4 linked regions of the Homo sapiens genome follow. The protein of the gene in region 4 purifies or fractionates together with the protein of the main gene of each other region. This does not show direct contact. Each region holds a gene or a part of one and is shown on either strand. Other genes may lie near its edges.

Evidence for each region.
Region 1: the proteins of EIF4G3 (region 4) and DDX42 fractionate together in Homo sapiens (co-fractionation; one large-scale study listed by BioGRID). This does not show direct contact.
Region 2: the proteins of EIF4G3 (region 4) and NBEAL2 purify together in Homo sapiens (tandem affinity purification; one large-scale study listed by IntAct). This does not show direct contact.
Region 3: the proteins of EIF4G3 (region 4) and PPP1R2 fractionate together in Homo sapiens (co-fractionation; one large-scale study listed by BioGRID). This does not show direct contact.

Annotation. Positions count from the first base shown.
Region 1 is NC_000017.11:63,812,170-63,815,669, forward strand, and holds part of DDX42 (ATP-dependent RNA helicase DDX42), read left to right. Parts: coding exon 1-39; intron 40-1,058; coding exon 1,059-1,285; intron 1,286-3,393; coding exon 3,394-3,500. UniProt on the Homo sapiens protein: ATP-dependent RNA helicase that binds to partially double-stranded RNAs (dsRNAs) in order to unwind RNA secondary structures. Unwinding is promoted in the presence of single-strand binding proteins.
Region 2 is NC_000003.12:46,982,666-46,986,165, forward strand, and holds part of NBEAL2 (neurobeachin-like protein 2), read left to right. Parts: intron 1-3,500. UniProt on the Homo sapiens protein: Probably involved in thrombopoiesis. Plays a role in the development or secretion of alpha-granules, that contain several growth factors important for platelet biogenesis.
Region 3 is NC_000003.12:195,513,928-195,516,626, reverse strand, and holds the end of PPP1R2 (protein phosphatase inhibitor 2), read left to right. Parts: 3' UTR 1-2,199; downstream 2,200-2,699. UniProt on the Homo sapiens protein: Inhibitor of protein-phosphatase 1.
Region 4 is NC_000001.11:20,862,398-20,865,897, reverse strand, and holds part of EIF4G3 (eukaryotic translation initiation factor 4 gamma 3), read left to right. Parts: intron 1-635; coding exon 636-782; intron 783-1,185; coding exon 1,186-1,422; intron 1,423-3,500. UniProt on the Homo sapiens protein: Component of the protein complex eIF4F, which is involved in the recognition of the mRNA cap, ATP-dependent unwinding of 5'-terminal secondary structure and recruitment of mRNA to the ribosome. Functional homolog of EIF4G1.

The DNA of each region.
Region 1 (3,500 bases), on a different chromosome or scaffold from region 4:
AAAAGGACATCCCAGTCCTGGTGGCCACAGATGTTGCAGGTAGAGTATGAATTTTTCAACAACATTAAGTTCCTAGGCTATAAGGGTACTCTGTCTTACTACATAAGACCTATAATATCTGAGCAGGCTGATGGAAAGACTGTTGGCCTGGCTGGCCATCCCCTCCCAAACCCCCAAGGAAGCAGCAGTTCAGCACAGGGATCACAGTCTGGAGCTCTAGATACCACTTTTCACTTAGTATTTCTCTCTAATCAAAGAATCCCTGCAGCTAGAAGTCACTCTGGGAAAAAAGGCAGTGAATGCCCTTATTGTATGTCTGAATATAGTAGATACCTTACCCTTACATTGATCTACTATACACAGCTTAGTTGGGCAACTTAACTCAGGATGAGAACAGTTTTTGGAATATAATTTCTGGATTTGTTCTGTCAAGTTTTAATAACTACCCTTAAACACTGATATTTTTTCCTAGAAAGGAGAGAACTTCTCAGCTTCATGACACATTTTAAATATATATTCCCAGTGCAAGAGAAGAGGGCATGGCAGATTACTGATGCAAAAGATAAAAGTCCCAGTCGGGCACGGTGGCTCACACCTGTAATCCCAGCATTTTGGGAGGTGGAGGCGGGCGGATCACCTGAGGTCAGGAGATCGAGACCATCCTGGCCAACATAGTGAAACCCCGTCTCTACTAAAAATACAAAAATTAGCTGGGTGTGGTGGCGCGTGCCTATAATCCCAGCTACTTGGAAAGCTGAGGCAGGAGAATTGCTTGAACCAGGGAGTCGGAGGTTGCAGTGAGCCGAGATCATGGCACTGCACTCCCGTCTGGCAACAGAGCAAGACTCCGTCTCTAAAAAATAAAAGTCCCTTACACTAGAAGGCCTAACATCATAGAATCTGTGGTGGTGACTTAACATGCCTGTATCTCAGCTCACCAAACCCATGCGCTTTGCCTAGATAAAGGAAATGTGGCTTATTAGCACTAGCATTTCTGGTTACTTTGATCTTCTGACTACAGATGAAGAATAAAAGAATTTGGTTGCTTTTTATTTCAGCCCGTGGTCTGGACATTCCTTCAATTAAGACTGTCATTAACTATGATGTGGCACGAGACATTGATACCCACACGCATAGGATTGGCCGCACAGGAAGAGCGGGTGAGAAAGGTGTGGCCTATACCCTACTCACTCCCAAGGACAGCAATTTTGCTGGTGACCTGGTCCGGAACTTGGAAGGAGCCAATCAACACGTTTCTAAGGAACTCCTAGATCTGGCAATGCAGGTGAGGGGCTGGGCACACTTTCAATTGCTCCTGGTTATAAGACCAAGACATTTTAGCAGTCCTGGAACAGATAACATAAAAACTTGACAAGAAAGTTGGGTGGCTAGGAGGATGTGGGGCTTATGAGGTACAGATAGGAATTGTGAGATACTAAAATTCATCTAGTCTTATCTGGTCTTCTTCTTTCAACAGCATCTGTTTTGAAAAGCTATTCCTTTGTGCTAAAATCTGTCGCTGTAATTTCTACCCCATAGCACACTTAGGAGTAAATTTAATCTCAAAGATGGTTACTATTCTCCTTACTGCTCTTCCCCCACAAAATTTTTCTTCTGGGAGGCTAAAAATGTGTGATGCCTTTAAAACAATATGTGTATAGTATAGTGCCCCCCCACCTTTTTTTTTTGAGACAGAATCTCACTCTATCGCCCAGGCTGCAGTGCAATGGCACGATCTCGGCTCACTGCAACCTCTGCCTCCTGGGTTCAAGCAATTCTCCTGCCTTAGCCTCCCAAGCAGTTGTGATTACAGGCGCCCACCACCACGCCTGGCCAATTTTTGTAATTTTAGTAGAGATGGGGTTTTGCCATGTTGGTCGGGCTGGTCTCGAACTCCTGACCTCAGGTGATCCGCCCGCCTCGGCCTCAACCTCCCAAAGTGCTAGGATTACAGGCGTGAGCCACCGTGCCCAGCCTGTATGGTGCCTCTTAACTGTTCCTTGCAGAGATCTCAGACCTCTGACCACACTGATTGCCCTCTTCCAGGTGTGCTCCAATCTAAAGCTAAGTGAGGCATTCTAACAAATCAAACCTGGAGTCATCTGAATCCATGCTGTCCCCAAATTACAAATGGGTTCGGAACACTTTCTGAGAGCAGAAACTGTTAAGAGTTTGTCAAATGCCTAGGCCAGCTCACACAACTGGTACAACCCAGCTGCAATGTGGCAGTGCCCAAGTTTCTGGTCCTAGGAGTAAAGGACCTGCACTGCAGGAGAGAAGAGAATAATGTTTCCTCCCCTGCTCCTGAGCACAGAGAGCTAGTCCTAAATAAACTTTTAAAACAGGACACATTTTGACTTTGGCATTTTCTTCCATTTCTTTTTGTACCTCAGGCTTTCTGTGCTCAGGACTTTGTCCAAGCCTGCTGCCCTACCTCTCAAGCACTTTATTTTGCTGGTAATATGTGATTGTCAGATAAAACTTTAACCTTCCCAGAGACATTTGCTTTTTTTTTTTTTTTTTTTTTTTCTTTTTTCTGAGATGGAGTCACACTCTATCACCCAGGCTGGAGTGCAGTGGCGCAGTCTCAGCTCACTGCAACCTCTGCGTCTCCGGTTCAAACAGTTCTCCTGCCTCAGCCTCCCAAGCAGCTGGGATTAGAGGCATGTGCCACCATGCCTGGCTAATTTTTGTATTTTTAGTAGGGACGGGGTTTCACCATGTTGGTCAGGCTGGTCTTGACTCCTGGCCTCAAGTGATCCGCCCACCTCGGCCTCCAGAGTGCTGGGATTCATAGGCGTGAGCCACCGCCCTGCATTCTTAAGAGAATGTGAGTAAATATGTTGAGTGGCAATGGTCAAGTTCAATGAAAACTTTTACGCTCTGCGGGTAAATAAAATTTTCAGTTGTGTGGCTACCATCCTTTCTGGGAGTCTGTCCCTATAGTCAGTTCTGATAAGCCTCACTTCACATAGCATTTTTCCTTTGCTTCTGAACATACCAGTTGTTTAAGTTCCAAATGTTTACGTCCAATAATACATGGTTTGAGAAATAAAATATAAGCTCATTTTCCTCAAGGAAGTTAGAAGTAGCCAAAGTTACTCCTCTGGGTTTGAAGCTTACCTGAACAACTTCCCTTCCAGGAGAGCCTTGAGGGAGGGAGCACTGTAGGAAGCCTTAGATAAGGATCTCAGCCACTTTTCAAATTTGGTGGATTATGCTACCAAAGAGAAACCAATCTGTGGTTCCTGTGAAAATTCCTCCCTTAGCGTAGTGCTGGCTGAAAATTAAGCAAAAGTTCCCCCTTCCCACTTAATTTCCTCTTTGTCCTCGTTCTCTTCTTCTGTTCTTTTCTCCCTCCCTTGACTTAACCTTGAATTTTGTTCAATGCAGAATGCCTGGTTTCGGAAATCTCGATTCAAAGGAGGGAAAGGAAAAAAGCTGAACATTGGTGGAGGAGGCCTAGGCTACAGGGAGCGGCCTGGCCTGGGCTCTGAGAA
Region 2 (3,500 bases), on a different chromosome or scaffold from region 4:
TGGGTCCCATGGCAGTGACCAGTCAGGAAGTCACCCCAGAGGAGGCTGAGTTTGGGCTTTGAAGGCTGAGAGGAAGAAACAGCAGGAGCAGTGGGACAAGAAGCAAATTGTCAGGAGTTGGGGCAGGGCAGAGCTAGTCAAGCAGGCCTGGTGGACAGGTGGGGGCTCATCTAGAGGACTCAGAGCCCACCAGAGCTCCCCCAGGGTAGGCATAGGAAGGGCAGGAGAGTCTTGGGGGACTGGGGACAGCACCTGACAGGCTGGCGGTTGGGCAGCCCATAAAAGTTAATGCCACATAGCATGCAGATGAGTGGCCCCTGTTCAGGCCGGAGCAGCAGTGATGTTCAGCAACCCCTCCAGTGAATGGGGTCACAGAGTGAGGGGGCACTGAATGTGGAAGGGCACTCAGGGTCACAAAGTTCAGGGCAGAACAAACCCTCAGGTGACAGGAGGGAGCAGAAGCTGACCTGTCCAGCTATGCCACTGAGGCCTCAGAAGGGTTCAGGGAGGTTAGGTCAGGCTGGAGGCAACCTCGTCCTGCCTACACTTCCCTGAGAGTTCCCTCTCCCTAACTGATGATCTCTACTGCCTCTCAGAAACCTGGTCAGGCCCTCCACTCCCCCGGTACTTTACCTGGTCATATTCCTTTTTTTTTTTTTTTTTAGACAGAGTCTCACTCTGTCACCCAGGCTGGAGTGCAATGGCATGGTCTCAGTTCACTGCAACCTCTGCCTCCCGGGTTCAAGCAGTTCTCCTACCTCAGCCTCCCGAGTAGCTCAGACTACAGGCGTGTGCCACCACACCCGGCTAATTTTTGTATTTTTAGTAGAGACGGGGTTTCACTATGTTGGCTAGGCTGCTCTCAAACTCCTGACCTTGTGATCTGCCCGCCTCAGCCTCCCAAAGTGCTGGGATTACAAGCGTGAGCCACCGCACCTGGCTTTATCTGGTCATATCCTTTTTGGGCTTCAGTTTACCTTCCTGAAATGGGTAAAGGGAAGGTGGAGTCACTTCTTTGGTGCTTGGTCCCCTGCCTCTATTACCAAGGCACCTGAAGGAGAAGGGCCTGTAGTGATAGGGAGATGAGCACACAGCCCAGGCTTGGGTGGGCACTGGTGATTCCTGGAGTTGTTATGACAACTGGGGAGCTGATGGGGAAGTGTGGGGTCCCCGTAGAAACAGGGTCAGTTACCATGGGGTCTATGGGGACCCTAGAAGGAAATTCCCATTTTCCTTAGTGATAGTAAAAGGGATTGGTCAGCTCTTGAGCCGCTTGCTTGAACCTACTTCCATTCTGTGGAGTGTACTTTCATTTCAATAAATCTATGCTTTCCTTGCTTAAAAAAAAATAGTGTCCAGGCGCGGTGTTTCACGCCTGTAATCCCAGCACTTTGGGAGGCTGAGGCGGGCAGATCACGAGGTCAGGAGATCAAGACCATCCTGGCTAACACAGTGAAACCCCATCTCTACTAAAAAAAAAAAAAAAAAAAATTAGCCAGGCGTGATGGCGAGTGCCTGTAGTCCCAGCTACTCAGGAGGCTGAGGCAGGAGAATGGTGTGAACCTGGGAGGCGGAGCTTGCAGTGAGTTGAGATCGCGCCACTGCACTCCAGCCTGGGCCGGCGACAGAGCGAGACTCCGTCTCAAAAAAAAACAAAAAAAACAATAGTACAAGGGGATGGTCAGGCCCTGGGGCAGGGTGGGTGTCATGGAGATCAGAAGGTCCACCCTTTCAGCACCCCCTCTCCAGGTAAGTGGGAGAGACTGGCCCAGCCACCCAGGCACTCAAACCACTATCCTCAGTTGTCCCTGCCCCAGCAAAGTCCCATCTTCCTGCTTCATCCCATGGCCTAACATCCTCCAAGCCTGACCTCCAGTCCTGGTGATGTAGCCAGAAGTCACGTTTAGCTTGACATTGTCCTCCCCGTCCTGATACTGAATGGGGGGACCCCCTAGGCCTGGGATAGGCTATTCCACATAAACACCACCCTGTCCCACTTCTGCTTGTCTGTCCCTGAAGATGGAGTGCTCACTACCGCCCAGGCAGCTCTGACTGAGAGGAGTCACCCACTCTTGAGCTGTGCTCTTCTCTCCCTTCCTGCTCCTAGCTCTTCCCTGGGGTCCATTAATGCCTCTTACTGTCACTCACAGAGGGGGCTGGGGGTTGTTGCCTGGAATTCAGGGAGCTCGGGCAGGCCAGAGCCCCTGGATCTGGAACTCCACTCACCTTACCCTGACCTCGAGTTGGGTAGGTGTGGCTGGAGAACTTTTACCCAAGAAGCAAAGGGATGGTTTTAAAGAGGTTAATGTTAAGTAACAAGCTACTGAGAGTTAGAACGGGGACTGGACTCCGGAACCCATGCCCTCACCTGATTCGGTTGGTGAGAGGCACCAGACAGGAATGGGTCTTACAAAGGGTGCTGATGCCCCTGATGGGGGCATTCCAGCAGAGCAAACAAGAGCAAAGCACAGGCAGACCTGTGGGGGTAGAGACAGTGATTCACGCCCTTGGGCCCAGGCATCCAGCGGGTTTGGGGTATGGAGGCTGCAGGTGAGGTGGGCACCACCCTACAGGGCCTCAGATGTGAGCTTGTGATAGGGCATGTGACTGGCTGATCAAGCCGTGATGGTGACAGATGTCTACTCGAGGCCCATTGTGCAATGGCCTTGGGGTACGTCAGGCAGGGTCTGGGAGCAGCATGGTGTCAGGCAGCTCAATGATCCCTGTCAGCTTGGCAAACAAGGTGTACTCCCTGTACTCCCCACCAATGTCACAACCACCAGCCCTCAGCCCTCCAGGTTACTTCAGAATTCCAGAGGAGTGGCAGTTCCATGCCCACCCAGGGACTGTTTGAGCCTAAGCAGCCCTCGGGAGCCCCTCACCCCCAGCACTCTCAAGTGCCCTCACAGCTAGTTGGGCATAAGTTGGGGTCTCTGTGGTGGTGCACATGAGACCCCCTCTTCCCAGGGACACCGGCCTTCCACATTCCCACAACCTTCTCCCCTGCTGCAGGACCTGGGCATCACTTACCTATGGACCCTGGAGAGGGCTTGGCAGGTGTGGCTGCTCCCGACCTGCCTTCAGTGGGGGACAGGGTTGGGGCCCTGACCCAGTTAGGTTGGGGCAAGGGGCTGGACTGTCCCTGACCCGTGTTCCTGCTCAGAGCTGGCACAACCGACCAAGGCAGAAGCTCTGAGAGGGGCATGGGAAGCCTGAGCATCATGGCCACTCCTCCCAGGCCCTGGACCCTCACATGCAGCACTGCCACCATGCTCTCGTCCCCTGCCATTCTCTGCCCTCTGACCCTGGCTCCCTGAGGGACTCCCGTACCCCGACACATTGCAGTCTCAAGCCATGGGGCCTAGGTCAGAGTTGGCCTGAGGTCTTCCAGGGAGAAACAGTGAGACCCAGGGAGGCAGGACAGGCAGCCACCCCACCCCTGCCTAATACTGTGCTTTGGAGACCTCGTCATCCCCTTTCAGAGCCCCTGAAGGCTGTCT
Region 3 (2,699 bases), on a different chromosome or scaffold from region 4:
TTGTATAAGATATTATAGAGCTTTTTATGCTTTAGAAGTTAAACAATATCTTTGGGGGGGAACTAATTTATTTTCATCACTTGAAATGTGGTAGCTCTTACAAAGTTTATTGATTTGATTTTTTTAAAAATCAAAAGCCAATTGAACAACAGGATATATAGACTGATAAATATTTAGGCTGAATAGTATTTTAACACTTGTCTTCAACTTGATTTGTCTGTTTAATTGAAAAGAATTATAAGAGTTACTGTTGCATTTTCTGACCTACTATTTTTAAAATTCCTGTTGAGTTTCTTTGTGTTTACAAGGAAAGGACTGAACTTTTTCTCATCAAAACTAGCTTTTTTCCCCACAAATAAATTATCAGGTTAAACTTTCACCAATGTCTGCTCTGTTTTTTGTTTTTGGGGGGTTTTTGTTTGTTTTTGTTTTTTAATGTTTTTGGTACACTGGGCAGACTTCAGAGCAGTTTTTTAAAAAAATAAATATTCTAATGTAGCTATCTCGCCATTCCCTTTAAATACCTGTCTTAACCTCCTGCTTTTCTTTCCTACTCCTTTCCACACATACGCACACAATCTTCTACCTTTTAAAGGATCATTAAGACTGTCACCACATTAGGAGCTCTTTCTCTCACTCTTCTGTCATTTGCTGCTATGTTGAAATTCTTATTTTGACCATCAATGCCTATGAATTCTTCTAATACGTGAAGAAAATAGTTTGAGTAGCAGCAGTGCTATAGGTGGGAAATACAGTTTAGCTGCTGAATTTCTATACCTCTCTGATTTACAGATTGCTAATTAAATGGCTATTATTAGTTTGGATTAATTAGACTTAAGAAAACAACTAACTGAGGGTTTTTTTTGTTTGTTTTTTGAGGGTTTTCTTTGCATGAGAATTGTATGTAACCAGTGATATGATTATTCCTGAATGTACAGACAGAAGTAAGCCTGGACATTGTTAAATAGTCCCTGCTTTAAGGGACTACGATAATGTGTACTATGACAAACGTGCTTTATTCTTCTAACGCAGTAAGAATTAGGTGGAATTTTTTCCTTCAACCAAGTGCAGGAAAGCCCTGTGTGTCTTGGTTTAGTTATGGTTTCATTTCTAGCCATACAATTGATGAATTGTGTACAACTTTTGTTAGTACCAAAATAATCTGTTATATGAACAGACTTCTAAAATAACGTCTGTATATTTTATATATAGATACATATATGAAAGAAGGCTTTTATTGAACAGCTTATCTTCCACTTGCAGGTTTATGGAAACAGCAGTATTTGAAAATAAATAAAAAGTGGGAGAATTCCTTGCTGTTAGAAGAATGTGGCCATTATTTTGATTTTTTGAATGAGATATATAATCAAAGTACTGCTGAACTGTGAGTGCAGTATTCTAAACATTTCAGCTAGGAATACCACTGATTTAGAAACAAAACTGTTTGTCTCTGGTTTCTGAATTTAAAATGTTGGGATTACCTGTTTAAATCTGTCTTGGGGGATGTAGAGATTAAGTCTGTACATGTGCGTGCACATATATTCATGCACCCTCTGATTTTGGTTTTCTTGTTTCTGAGTTCTTAGAAAGTACCCACATACTCTTTTTTTTTTTTTGTAGAAGTAGCTGTCATAGAGTGAAGAAAAGGATAAGACTTTAAACAGTTGATTCTTTTTGTGTTTTCTACAAACTATTTTTTGAAATTTAAATCACAAACTCATTTTCTGGTTTTTAGAAAGTAGATGATGATTTCAGAGGAGTAAGGCATGCCAAGCAGCATGCTCAGTGGGGTTTTAGGCTGTCACATGCAGCTGAGAAAAGGTATGTTCAAGTCATAAGTAGGTAATTGATAGGGTATGAACTAGTCAAAATATGAACCATTATGATTCAAGTTAGATTTTCCTCTGGAGAGACAGATCTGAATGTTCAGTTCTAGCCAAGGTAGATTTTACTTTCAACTTTTTAATCAGTATCACTTTCTGTGCTTAACTATTTGGTGTTACCTTGTCTGTTTTCATTTGTCTAAAATTCTGCAGAGATGACTAAAATTTGACATAATGGTGTAAATGGATTGTTAAGGTAACTTTCAGTTGAAGATTAAAGCAAGATGCCATTTTCCCCATGACTTTGGTTTTGTTTACATTTTTCCCTTTCAGTTAGTATACACTACACGTACTGTAATAAAATACAATAATATGACAATTGCCTGTGTGTGGATTTTATTTTATTGTTACTTAGCTATCTCAAGACCATAATCCATCGACCACTTGCCCTGGATACCAGGAGTGGATCATGGATTACGCTGTGGCCGAGTAGTTTCCTCAGTCTTAGTAGCATTGTGCTCAGTCCCTTACATCTAACCCTCAAAACCACCACACAAAGGCAAGCATTCTTATCTACACTTTGTAAGTGAGGAAAGTGCTCTTGGTCAACTTATTTATTAATCATTTCAGTGCCTCACACATGCTAAATGATAGGATTTAAATCCAAACCTAACTAAATTTCATGGTCTTTATTCATACATTTTTTGATGTAGAAAACATTTTAGAAATTGTACCTTACAAATAAATGTATATGGATTATTGATCCATAACTATGCTTTAGGAGTAGCATTTTTCAGGTGTTTGAGCTTCTGGGGTTTTTTAAAATCTGAAAAATTGGAAATAACTTAATTTTGTTTGCAGTTTGTGTGCCATCTA
Region 4 (3,500 bases):
TGGATGGAAACCTTGTAAGGATCTTGCTTCCAAACTTTTGGAGAACTAGTATATTCTCATGGCACATAAGCAATAAGCAGTAAACATACTATATTTATAGTCAAGGTAAGTGCTAACATTATGACATTCCCCAATGAAAAGATATCTCAAAAATCCCCCAGTATCCCAACTTCTGCATAAATACAATAAGGATCTCACCTACAACAGTTTTGCGATAACCAGCAAATTCTCCCTTGTCTTATGTCATTTTTGTGTGTTCTATTAAACCAAAATACTTATTACAACGGTACTTCTTAAAAAAAGAAGTAATAACTCTACACAGTTTTTTTTTTTTTTAAATAAGGTCTAGATAAGTTCAGAGTTATAGTTGCAATGATATGACAAGGGTTTCCATGTTAGCTAGTAGCATGGCTAAAAAAGAGTACATTTATATGAGAGGAATGTGTGTCTTTTCTAAATAAAATTTAAGACATATTACTGTTGAATCATGAAATGCCTGAAGCTATATTGTTTGCCTCTTATAGAATGCTTACCTGTGGTTCAGTCAGCATTATTTCATACAATAAAGCAAACAGATATTTTTAATGTCTTTAAGTAATCTTGTTGATTTTTTTTATTTTCCTGTCTGGATGTAGCTGAAAGTACCCATGGCAGACAAGCCTGGTAACACAGTGAATTTCCGGAAGCTGCTACTGAACCGTTGCCAGAAGGAGTTTGAAAAAGATAAAGCAGATGATGATGTCTTTGAGAAGAAGCAGAAAGAACTTGAGGCTGCCAGTGCTGTAAGTATTTTCATAGAAAGACAGTGCTTGTACACTTTGAGCACTGTAAAGTAGAAATTTCAGGAAGCTAGATACAGCATCTCCCTGCTACCTTAAGAGGGACCTATGGCCTTTTTTTTTCCATGTAGAAACAACATATTAATGTTTAGGGGAATGCTTTGTTCCTTTTAGTGCCTAATATAGGGGACAGCTAAATTTTCCATGCCAGCCATTCAATCTAAGCCTGAGTCAGGTCACTGAGTTCCAAAAATCTGAAATGGATGGGTATAGTTCAGTTTTCTGAGCAGTAGATTCTACACTTGCTATCAGATTCTCACGGGGATTCTGACCCCATGAATCTCAGTGTTTATTGTGCAGTACAACTTTCATCATCAAGATGCTATTATTCCTCCTTACACAACAGCCAGAGGAGAGGACAAGGCTTCATGATGAACTGGAAGAAGCCAAGGACAAAGCCCGGCGGAGATCCATTGGCAACATCAAGTTTATTGGAGAACTCTTTAAACTCAAAATGCTGACTGAAGCCATCATGCATGACTGTGTGGTGAAGCTGCTAAAGAACCATGATGAAGAATCCCTGGAGTGCCTGTGTCGCCTGCTCACCACCATTGGCAAAGACTTGGACTTTGAAAAAGCAAAGGTAAAAATCCAAAAGCTCAGAAACCTTCGCAAAGGCTCCTTGTCAGTTGCAAAAGAACTTAGACTGTCAACAGAATAGTTCTATCTTTTCCCAAAGGTCTGGGCTGTTTATTTTTCTTCTTTTGCCCGTCTCATTGTCAGTGTTCAACCATCGTGCTCCTTACATTTCCATCAGAGTCAGAGATGAGGAGGGTCCCAAATTGTGTAAAAGCCAGTTTGTAGATTCTTCAGATTATTTGTCCCATATTCTTTTTTCTTCTTCTGTAACCATTTCCCAATTTGGGAACAGAAATATGCAAAGAAAAACTATGGCCTAAGGGTAGTGCAGAAATGAAGACCCAGTAGTGCTTCTAGAGTTTATACTCTAATTGATGACACAGCCATCTAACCATAATATAAGAAATCATTAAAAATACTGTAATAATGTATGCTATTTAAGGGGTATAGAAATTAGAAATGCTTCAAAGAAATAATGTCAGAAACGCTCCATAACATCTGATTCAGCTAGGATTATGCTTAGCTGTGACAGAAAACCCAGTGGTTTATACAAGATTGAGGTTTACTTCTTATTTATGTAAACAAAGCTCTGAGGTAAGTCCTTTCAGCTTAACATTCTGTGACTCCTAAAGTTTAACCCTTGTCCTAATTATTCTCACCAGAGAAGGTAGGAAAAGGGGCAAAAGACACAGCCACCTCTCTCTCTCTCTCTTTTTTTTTTTTAAGTAACAGGGTCAGCCGGGCACGGTGGCTCATGCTTGTAATCCCAGCACTTTGGGAGGCTGAGGCGGGCAGATCACCTGAGGTCAGGAGTTCGTGACCAGCCTGACCAACATGGAGAAATCCCGTCTCTACTAAAAATACAGAATTAGCCAGGCATGGTGGCGCATGCCTGTAATCCCAGCTACTTGGGAGGCTGAGGCAGGAGAATTGCTTGAACCCGGGAGGCAGAGGTTGCAGTGAGCCAAGATTGCGCCATCGCACTCCAGGCTGGGCAACAAGAGTGAAACTCCATCTGAAAAAAAAAAAAAAAGGAAAAAAAAAAAAAAGGTAACAGGGTCTTGCCCTGTCACCCAATTTTTTTTTTTTTTTTTTTTTTTTACTTTTTGTAGAGATGATGGGTCTCACTTAGTTGCCTAGGCTGGTCTTAAACTCCTGGCTTCAAGCAGTCCTTTTGCCTTGGCCTCCCTAATTGCTAGGATTACAGGTATCAGTCACTATGCCTGGCCCCTCTGGTCTCTTTAGGAAGGCCCTAGGAAGCTATAGCATAACATTTCCATTTATATTATTGCCTATCATTAATCACGTGACCAAAGCCAGCTGCCAGGAGCCTAGAAAAATGTAGTCTTTATTTTAGGTGGTCATATGAACAACTAAAAATTCTACCATATGGCCGGGCACAGTGGCTCACACCTATAATCCTAATACTTTGGGAGGCTGAGGCAGAAGGATTGTTTGAGCTCAGCAGTTTGAGACCAGCCTGGGTAACATAGTGAGATTTCCTATGTCCAAAAAATCATACACACAGAAAAATTTAGCTGGGTGTAGTGGCATATGCCTGTCTGTGGTCCCAGCTACTTGGGAAGCTGAGGCAGGAGGATCACTTAAGCCCAGGAGATTGAGGCTGCAATGAGGCATAATTGAGCCATTGCACTCCCAACTGGGTGACAGAACAAGACCCTGTCTCAAAAAAATACAAATAAAAATTCTACCACATTATATTTTGGCTATAAATTGATATTCCTAGACCATTTAGAAAACTACATGGGCTGGACGCAGTGGCTAATGCCTGAAATTCCAGCACGTTGAGAGGCCAAGGCTGGAGGATTGCTTGAGCCCAGGAGTTCAAGACCAGCCTGAGCAACATAATGAGACCCTGTCTCTACAAAAAATTAAAAGATTAGCCAGGCACGGTGGCACGTGCCTGTAGTCCCAGCTACTCGAGAGGCTGAGGTGGGATCGGTTGAGCCTGAGAGGTTGAAGCTGCAGTGAGCCGTGATTGTGCTACTGCACTCCAGCCTGGGCAACGGAGTGAAACCCCATCTCTAAAAAAATAAATAGATAACTACATAAATAAATAAC